Linked DNA regions of Homo sapiens. The protein of the gene in region 1 purifies or fractionates together with the protein of each later gene. This does not show direct contact. Each region holds a gene or a part of one and is shown on either strand. Other genes may lie near its edges.

Region 1 (3,500 bases):
TGATTAGGAAAATGCAAATTACAACCACAATGAGATAACATTTCACACCAACGAGAATGATCGTAATCAAGAAGACAGACAATAACAAGCATTAGTGAGAATGTGCAGAAATGACTATCCTCATACATGGTTACTTGGAAGGGAAAATGGTACAATCGATATGGAAAAGAGTGGAATTCACAAAATATTGAATATAAGTTTACCATAACACAAGAATTCTGCTTCTAAGTATATACCAAAAAGAATGAAAACACATCTATACAAAGACTTGTATGCAATTATTCACTACAGCACCGGTATGGAGAATAGCGAAAAAGTATAAACTACACCTATTCTATCAACTGCCAAGTAAAAGTAAACAGAACCTGGTATACCCAATCAATGGAATACTATGAGAACAAAATAAGGAGCAAAGTACTAATATATGTATGCTACAGCATGGATGAACCTAAAATGAAAGAAGTCAGACATAAAGGTCACATACACATTCATATGATTAAATCATAAATTTATTCATAAGTTTCATTCACATGAAATATTCAGAAAACTCAAATCTACAGAGACAGAAAGCAAATTAATTGTTAGCTAGGTCTGAGGGGGTGGAAACATGGACTGAATATTAACACGAGGATTATTTCTGGAGTGGTATAAGTATTCCGAAACTTAGATTGCAGCACATCTGTAAATTTAGTAAAAATAATTCACTTGTACACTTAAAACAAGGGAATATTTATAGTATTTAAATTACACTTCGATAAAGCTATTAGTTTTTTTTAATTAATATGTTTGTAGAAATCAACAAAAATAATGAAAGAAAAAAGGTGTTGGAAAGAGCCAGATAGAAATGTGCTATGACTACAGGGGACAAAATATTACTCAAGGAATCTCACAGTGGAGATCAGGGAAAAAGACATGTGTTTAATTATAGATTTATTCTTGTTTTGATCCAGACATTGAGTTATTAACAAGAACATCATTTGCTATTCATATATGAGATATAATGGCAATGACAACTTCACAACTTTCCTTTCATCATGTCTTCCTACAAATCTTTTGTCACAAGCAAACTTAATTACTTTTTTGTAAAATAATGAGAAAGAAAAGGAGACCTAAAATAAAGAGAAAATATTCACTCATACCGTTATGTTCCTGAAATTAACATAGCTGAGAATGCCACATTTGGAAGCTGTTTAAATGGTAACTGAAGTTTTATCATTCTCAGTTTAAGAACACATGAATGAAATCTCCCCACACTATATTTCCATGTCGACTCCAGATTAATTCCTTATGTGCTGAGCTATCTAGATATCTTAACAAAAACAGAAGGCAGACCTTATACCTGCCTAAGATTGCTAAAACAAACATGTTCACCAGGCTTTACGAGAACAACAGAGTAACTTACTTTTTCACCAGGAGGACCAATTGGACCTTGTGGACCAGGAAGACCCTATTTTAAAAGAATTTATTTCATATATCAGATATCAAATCACAGTAATATGCTTTTAAAACAGCAAATTATTAGCTCACTATAGTACACAGTGAGTTATAAGAATCTGTATATATTCCCATACACCCCAAGGAATTTTAGAACACGATGAGGAGTTTTACACAAGCTGCTCTTTTTTGCAAAGGGACTATAATGCGATCCTATTCAGAACCCTCCTGCAGGTGGCTATTAGTCCTGGCATTCCCTAAACATTGAATGAGTCATTTTTCCCTGGGAAGAGAGGGGCTTCTGCAAGTTTGCTCAAATTTTTTTAAAAAAAGAAAAGTATGTATTTTCCTACATTCACATTTTAAATATTGCTAGGACTACATAGAAAATTGTGAGACTGTCGATTTTCTTATAGAAAGATAGCATCTTCCCCCCATTATTTCAAAGGAGCTGCAGTGGCTTAGACTTACCTGAGGTCCTGGATTCCCTTGTTGACCTGGAGGCCCAGGCTCCCCTTGGGGACCCTGCCAGAGGAAAATATAAAAAGTTTTTAATGGGCTATATTACACAATAGATTTTTGTTCTTCTCAATTGGAAAATACCTCTACCCACCCTCAAACAGTTTTCCCTCATGAGATTCTGGAAAATATTTCAAAATATTAATGCAAGCTGTATCTAATATACTTAGCAAAATGTAATAAATCATTATATTTTAGATTTAACAACAAAAAATGGTTTCTTAGGGCTTATATTCAAATATGAGTTATTTTATCACTATTTGCTACATACCATGTTCCCTTTTGGTCCTGGGGGGCCATCTACACCTGCCATACCCTGCAATGAAGAAAAAGTATTTATGGTTGTTTATATGTTTTGATGCTAAAACAGAAAATCAAAAAGACTAATCTAATATCATGATATTCACTACCCTAAGCAACTAAAAATCATTTTAGGATTTAATGGAAACGAAGAAGAGACAAGACCTATACTTTCTTTTCCATGTCCACATTGGAGACAATCTAGCAACATTTTCCTCTGCATGCTGGGGATGTATCATGAAAACACTAAGATAGATAATCAAAAGGAAGATAGAAGAAAAGGAGGGAATGATGAGTTAAAGTGAAAGGCAGCAACAATAGATCTTCAAACATAACAAGGCAATAAACTCTTGGCTCTCTACTGAGGGCTTTTATGGCCTCTAAAAGGTTGGCAACAAGCTTTCCCTAGAAAATCTTCAATGTTTCCAGCAATACATACAGGCTGCCCTGGAGCTCCTGGAGTTCCCCTTGGACCCAGCAAACCTCGTGGGCCCTAGGAGAAAAAGAAAAAGCACGCCTTTATTAAAAAAAAAAAATGTCCTAATAACATGCCTCTTTCAATGAAGAAATCCTAAGGTTATTTTTAGAATAAAAATATTTGGACATCTTTTATTAACACACTGAAAGTGATGTCCATAACATAAATATCTAGTGTTTATACTGATCCAAAAGCCAGAATAAATAACAGTTTTTAGTACAGAAACTGTGTTTCTTTGATTCTATAATATTACATATGAATCACTTGGGGAATTTTTAAAATAGGAAACAGTTTAATATTTTCTATAAGACACTTTTGTGTCATTTTTTGATTTCAGTGACAGCATCGAACATTATTATTCAATCAGATATACTACATAAATAGAAGAGTCTTGATTCTCATTTATTGTACATTTAGGTAAATTTCATCTTAAGACAGCATTCACTGAGGAAAGAAAACGATCATCTGTGTAACTATATATGCAGATTACAGAAACCATTTTTCGAGGTTTCTTAAATTATTATTATTCACACTTGATTTCTCCTTCTCTTCTTTTTCCCCCTCCTGCACCTGCTCACCTTCTTTTCCTTCTTTAGAAAAGCCAATAAAATAATCTAATTTCTCTCCCATTTGCTTGAACTTACTTGACAAGGATCTAAAATGTGGCGCAAGGTAGAATGCAGCAATTTAAAACCAAAATTAGGAGGCCTATTTCCAGTTTAGTTATTTTGTTAGCTAGCTTCAAGTAAACCTTCCCAGATCAGTTTCC
Region 2 (3,500 bases), on another chromosome or scaffold:
AGATGTCTGGTGGGCAGTTTGCCATATGAGTCTAGAGGATGGAAAAATTAGCTGAATATAAAAAACATAAATTTAGGTGGCAACCAAGCCATGGGTGAGGAAAATAGCTTGCAGGAACTCTGAGGAAAGAATGGAGAAGATGACTAAGGCCAGAGCTCCAGGGAGCACCTACCCAGAAAGAACAGACAATGAATAACCCTGAGAATGAACTAAAGATAGGAGAAACAGAGGGAGCGGGAGTGGTGTGAGAGACACCAAGGGAGGCCAAGAGCCAAGGTTGCAGTGCCAGCTTTGGCTGTTAAGTGGCAGGGACCTTGCTGAGTATCAGTTCAGTGGGTCTTATGACCAAAGGTCATCTGCTGTAGAGGGAGTGCTGGAAAGTGACCATGAAGATAGTTTCAAGCCAATATGAAGAAGCAGCTATAGGGAGATGCAGGATTTAGGGTGAGCTCAAGATGGGAAAGACTATGTGTGTGGTTCCTCAGAGAATAATGAGAAAGCAGATACCATGGAGGGGAAGTGGGGGCTGTGACTCTCCCTGGAAAGCAAGGAAGACTCCCCACAGCCCCATTAACAGCAACCTGGGCATGGCTGACACAAAAGAACTCAGAGAAGGCTCTTTCTGCCTGGAATGAAACCACTACACAGTAGGCTAAATGCTTCAGAGACCAGGGTCTGCTAACCCCGGTGGCTCAGGAACCAATAACGAGGAATAGGAAGTTGGGGACAGTAAACACAAGATGAAGTCCCTAGGTAGGCCAGGGACTGGGGGGCTCCTGGAGCCCCTTTTCCTTCTCCACAGGTCTCCTCTGGCTCTGCAGGCCCAGGAACCTACATTGCTGGGGCAGAGTAACATAGCTGACTGAGCTGGGGCTCTGGAGCTGAACTAAACTAGGTTTGTGTTGGCCTCACTAGGGCGCCAACCAGCTGTGTGACTATAGACAAGTTACCATATCTAAGTCTCAGTCCCCTTATCTCTAAATAAAGATAATATCATCAATTTTAAAGAGCTTGTGGCAAGAATTCAATAAGATGACATATGAAGATGTCTCCTATGCTCCCCAGGATGCTAATGACCAGTAGCTATTATCAACATGTCTCCCAGATGCCAAGAATGCTAAGAATGGCTCCCTGGCACTCAGCATCCTCCCCAGAGCCAACTCGAATGTCTACTCCCTGGAGAGCATTTGGGAGAGTGACAGCTGAGCTGAGTGCTGATAGGCAATCAGACATGGAGTAGCCTAGCTGACATGGGTAAAGGTATTCCTATAGAGGGGTTGAGACAAAAGAGCTGAGTGATAGGGAAAGCTGAGTACAATGGGCAAGGAAGCCAGGAAAATGGAGTCATGCAGGACCCCAAAGACCACACACAGGAGGAGTTTGGGTTTAGCTTTGGAAATTAAGCACAGTAATCAGGAACTCATGTGAACAAATGTGTGCTTAAGACCACATGGAGGATGGTCTTAAGCAGTAAGCTGGAGGTAGGAGACAAGTCAGAATGGTATTTTGATAATCAAATTGAGAAAAAAGTAGCTGTGAGGCTGGAGTCAGGGGATAAGCACGGAAGACATGAGAGAAGGAGGTAGAATCCATAGGCCTTAGGCTTCTGGCTTAGGCAGCCAGAGGATGGAGGTCCTTTTTGCTGAGATAGAAGGATGAGGGGGAAGGTAAAGTGTTTACAAGGAGATGAGGATTTCAGTTCAGGACACATGAAGTTCGAGAAGTCCATGGGACATTCAAGTACAGATGTCCCAAAGGCATCCGTCTACACTGGTTAGAAGCTCGGGAGACAAGCCTTGGCAAGAAACACAGATCTGGATGTCATCCACCTCAGGTGATGGAAATGGCTGTGCTCACCTGGGGAAGGTGCTCAGGGAGAAGATGAGGTAAGGATGGAGTCCTAGGGAGTAATTCCTTTCTGCCCCATAACCCTATTCAGGACACTCATGGGTTTGCTGAGTGAACGTGAGAGGTCAACGCCAGGGTATGGTTCCCTCCTCCAAGCAACCAATCTCAAGGCTACAGAGTGAACAGATCTTGCAGGTGCCCTGAACTGCCCTCTCTCTAATGGAGTCTAAAGGGGGCAGCTGAGGTTCTGGAGCTGGAATAAGCTGGGTCTGCATGAGCCTCACACAGTGAATCGCTGGGGTTACTTGTCTCCAGCAGCCCTCAAAACATCTTCTTATAAACACTAACACTGGGAAGTCAGTGGGAGAGGGGCCACTTGAGAGAAAATGACCAGAGAGGCTAAAAGAGAAGCAGATATCAGTATGCCAGAATTCAAAGGAGGAGAGAACATCACAAAGAATGAGGCAATCTATCTGTCAAATGCTGCTGGGAAGTTAAAGAACATTATGTGTGAACCTTGTTCGCTGGGTTTACCAGCCAAGCGGCCACTGATGACCTTGTAAGAACAGCATCAGTGACAGTGGGGAAAAAGGCCAGATACTGTGAGTTCAGGAGTATATGGGAACCAGGAAAATGGACAGAGTGTAGATTACTCTATCCAGTAGCCTAACCAGGAGGGGAGAAGAGATGAATCAGCAGCAAAGACTCGAAAGACTCTCAGATACCGAGGGAGGCAAGTGTTAAGATGAGCAAGAATAGAGCCTATATGGGAGCTCAAGGGTAGAACCCAGAGAGGTGGAGACAGAATGTATAGGAGCAGAGACTGTAACTAAGAGGACTCAAGACAGGGGGATAGTAAGCCCAGATCAGCCTTAGATGAAAAGACATTGGAGGGTGGGAGACAAGAAGCAGGTCTGAATGCAGATCTGTGTGGTGCTCTGGGGACAGACGTGGAGGGGGTTCCTGAGCAGCAACTTTGGCTTTCTCTGAGATGCAAGAGGAGAGGGCCTTGGCTAATACATGGAGGGAGGTGGCAGGGCAGGGGCTGAGGGAGAAACCTGTCATGGGAGAGGGAGTCCAGCACAAACTGGTGAGCCAAGAGGTGCACCAGAGGTGCACCCGAGGTTAAAGGCCACAAGTTGGTGGTGGCTCCAACCTGTCCCGCCACTAAAGAGACACATGCGGGACAGGCAACGCCTGGAGTGGTGAGTTACCTGGAAGTTCCCCTCTGGAAATTGTGCCTGGGTCCAGCCTGTATGTGTCCTGAAGTCTCATCAGGGCTTTGGCAGCTCCTATCTCGTCCTCATCAGTGGGGAAGAACTGCCGCTGCACAGAGAGGTTGGCGATAAAACCTTCCAAATGAGAGTCAGAACAAGAGATTACCCTTGATCCAGGGGCAGAATTCCACTTGGGACCAGAGAGGCAGCCACAAAGAGGGTCTCTGGCTAGTGAAATTTCCCCGCCCCCTCCCTCAAAGGCTGTTGCCCCCTTCCACCAGGAAGTTGTCCCTGATGACTCCAGTCTATGGGGACTTTTCCTTTCTTACTCCTCACCATACCTACTGCCTGTGTTGCTCTTTGGAACTAAGTAGAAGCAGCCCCCCATATTGGTTAATATTTAGGAGTCCAGAAGTCTTGGCTCCAAATCATTCA
Region 3 (3,500 bases), on another chromosome or scaffold:
TTAAAAATGTTTAAAAAGTAGGAATCAAAACCCTGAAGTTTTTTTGCTTTACCTTGAATATCATCATTGAAAGTACAATATTTTTCTCGGTACTTTCTCAAGAACCTGAATGCATTATGATTTCCAAAGTCTTCGAACTGAATGAGTGTGTTCCGGCCATATCTAAAAACAGCAAAACCCACAATAGTTGTGTTGAAAATAACACTATTAAACAGCTTTCCACCTAATATTCCCTATGATAGCATTCAAAAATAATGTATTATGTTAGTTCAATTAAGGCCATCTGAAAAATTTCAGAGCCTGTGAAAGACTAGATCCAAAATGTAGAAATTATTCAATAAAAAAAGTATGAGGTGTTTAAAAAGAATGTGGCACAATGATAAACCCATGGGCTATCAATCTATGTAAACTATTTTCAAGTGTCCAGGAGGACACTTCCTTTGACTCTGAACCTCAAAAAATATATATTTGATATGTATATTCTCATTACATTAATAGTTAAACAGCAACACAAGAAAGTATATATTAAATAAGAAATTGAAAAATAATTGCTATTTGAGTTCACTGACATTCAGAAAAAGAAGATGTTAATCGTCTAGGTGAGCTCAAGTAGTAAGGGAAGGCTTGAAAAGGAGGTGGGCCCTGAAAGAACAAAAAGTAAAGAGCTAGGAAGAAAAGCAGGCTGTTATTAGGGTGACCCTGAATTTTCAACAGTCTGGCTATATATTTCATGGTTTACATTAAGAGATAAGGGAGAAATTGGTTAATGCAGGTTGGAACCAAATAAGGGAGGATCTCGAATGCTAAATTAGAGAAGAGGGACTTTCTTCTGCATCCCATGTAGAAACAGTGAAGGCTGCAGAGAAAGGAAAATATTCACATATGACTCCCTTTAGGAAGGATAAACCTGCCAGTGATACGTAGCTCATATTGGTGTGGGGAGACGGGAGTGGCAGAAGCAACTAGGAGGCTACTATGATACGAAGACAAGAGATCTGAAGCAGAAGATGCAGGAAGCAAAAGGAGTAACTATGAACTATTAGGATGAATAGAAATTGATAAGGATCAACTGGGAAATGAGGAAGAAGCTGTTACAATGTGAAGGTAATGGGGTAACTAAGAAGGTACTATTTGGTTGTCCAAGATAGGAAAGTGAGAGGAAGAAGGAGAGATGGCAATTTCTGAGAAGATGTAAAGTTCAGCTTTAGACTTGTTGACTTTGACTCTGAAAAGGAATTAATGTTTAAATATCTTCTACGTGCCAGCAATTTTAAAGGTAGGCCAGGGTTAGATCATTAAGGTAAAAGAGTTTGACTTTATCCTATGGCAATAGGAAACCAATCAGAGATTTCAAGCAAAAGAATGACAAAATGAAGCACACGTTTCAAAACAATTAATCTGGTATTAAGGTGGAGACGAACTGGAGAGGAGAGAAACTGGAGGAAGAATTAGAAAACTCCAGAAGAGAGATAAGGAGAGAGCAAGATTGCGGCAATGGAAAACAGGAGACATTTAAGTGGTAGTACCCACTGAATTTGAGGAATATCTGAAATCTGACTGACGGAGAAGGCAGAAGAGTCAAAGATAACACTAAGATCAAAGTTTTGGCAACAGGATGAATGTTACTGCCAATAATAGAAGCTGGGAATACAGAAGATAGGTTGTTTGGAAAGGAAAGGAGTTCAGTGTGGGATATGAATATGCACTCATAACAGAATACCCAGATGGAAGATTCTGATTATTAGAAATGCAGGCCTCACAAGAGCAGTGGAACTACAGATGGGTTTTTATGGGTTTAGTAGTAACATGCATAAAGGTCATAGTTGACATGGCTGAAAGAGAAGAGGACTAGGTAGTTATCCACATTTAGTAAGAGACAGCAAGAACCTGTGAAGATGACAAAAAAAAAAAAAAAGAGAAAGGTGGGAGAAAGACCAAGTTAGGAGGAAGCTGTTTAGCAGTCAAGAGAAGAGAGAGTTTCAAGGACATAGAAGTGGGAAAACCTGAGTTGACGGTGCAAAGAGGTAGAGAAGTGGGAGGACCCAATGGTCAGAGAACTTAAAATACAAAAGCTGCACAAGAGCTTCAGTGGAATGGTGGGCGTGAGCCTGAAGGTCAAGGCTGAAAAAGGTACTGAGCAGTAAGCGTTTGATGGAAGCAGTGAGGGCAGACTTCCCTCAAAATGTCAGGTAACTCAAGAAAGCAAGGCAGACCATGGGTACCACCTCATATCGGCACATCTAATCAGGCAGAAACAGCCAGGCAGAACAAAGTTCTCAAAAATTTAATCGCCTCCTGCTTATCTACACAGGAAAGAAATAAAGGAAAACAAAACAAAACTTTGGTTCTTACCCCACCCACCCCATTAAAGGTGCTTTCATATACTCAAACTTTTAAAAAATACCTGTCAGTAATAGCTTTCATAAACTCATCAATCAGGTCATCATACTGTTGTGTGCGATCTCGTTTCTGGTACAAGCCCATGTAAAATGGGTCTTTTAAGAGTGCCTACAAAATAAACCAAATGTAAAAATAAAATAATTTATATAATCAGTTTAAACACATACAATAAAAATTGCAAAATAAAAAATTACTAATACAATTTTTTAAATGTATTGCCCTACAAGAAACTTTATTTTTTCTTTTTTGAGACAGTCTCACTCTTGTCACCCAGGCTGGAGTGCAATGGTGTGATCTCGGCTCACTGCAACCTCTGTCTTTTGCATTCAAGCAATTCTCTTGCCTCAGCCTTGTAGCTGGGATTACAAGCATGTGCCACCACGCCCAGCTAATTTTTTTTGTATTTTTAGTAGAGTCTGGGTTTCACCATGTTGGCCAGGCTGGTCTCGAACTCCTGACTTTTGGTGATCTGCCTGCCTCGGCCTTCCAATGTCCTGGGATTACAGGTATGAGCCACCATGCCCGGACCAAGAAACTTTTAATAGACTTAATTTACTATTATTTATATAAATATTAAAAGTGGAGTTTAAGAAAAAAAAATCTAATCATAAAACTTTCCCTTCTTAAATTATCATTTTCAAAAAAGGAATATTGTACACATTTTAAAAAATACAGGAGGAAGATAAAGGGGGAAAATGATGTTACTCACGATATTATCAGTTCCCACATCAATACACACTGGCAGGCATCTATCAGGCCGTATTCCTGCACAAGCTGTATACAAACAAAGTTTTCCTACTGGAATTCCCATTCCATAGACACCCAGATCTCCAAGACCCAGAATTCTCTCTCCATCAGTCACTACAACAGCCTTAATCACAAAAAAATGCAAATTAAAAGTTGTCAAAAATGGGGCACTAAAGAAAAGCATTTTTTAAAAGATTGATTCACTTCATATATATTTACTCTTTGCTCTTAAAAATAAAATTGTTTCTTGGCTAATTTCCAATGTAAACCAACAAAGCATACTTAAAATTCTAGGACTTCTGAGTATTATGAGACATTAACTAGATTTGATTTCCCTCTGACTTCGGTTTAGG

Evidence for each region. The genes of interacting proteins can lie anywhere in the genome.
Region 2: the proteins of COL11A1 (region 1) and P4HA2 purify together in Homo sapiens (co-immunoprecipitation; one large-scale study listed by IntAct). This does not show direct contact.
Region 3: the proteins of COL11A1 (region 1) and ME2 fractionate together in Homo sapiens (co-fractionation; one large-scale study listed by BioGRID). This does not show direct contact.

Annotation. Positions count from the first base shown.
Region 1 is NC_000001.11:103,000,523-103,004,022, forward strand, and holds part of COL11A1 (collagen alpha-1(XI) chain isoform A preproprotein), read right to left. Parts: intron 2,747-3,500; coding exon 2,693-2,746; intron 2,270-2,692; coding exon 2,225-2,269; intron 1,960-2,224; coding exon 1,906-1,959; intron 1,448-1,905; coding exon 1,403-1,447; intron 1-1,402. UniProt on the Homo sapiens protein: May play an important role in fibrillogenesis by controlling lateral growth of collagen II fibrils.
Region 2 is NC_000005.10:132,210,854-132,214,353, forward strand, and holds part of P4HA2 (prolyl 4-hydroxylase subunit alpha-2 isoform 2 precursor), read right to left. Parts: intron 3,201-3,500; coding exon 3,063-3,200; intron 1-3,062. UniProt on the Homo sapiens protein: Catalyzes the post-translational formation of 4-hydroxyproline in -Xaa-Pro-Gly- sequences in collagens and other proteins.
Region 3 is NC_000018.10:50,917,118-50,920,617, reverse strand, and holds part of ME2 (NAD-dependent malic enzyme, mitochondrial isoform 1 precursor), read right to left. Parts: intron 3,272-3,500; coding exon 3,110-3,271; intron 2,509-3,109; coding exon 2,405-2,508; intron 163-2,404; coding exon 53-162; intron 1-52.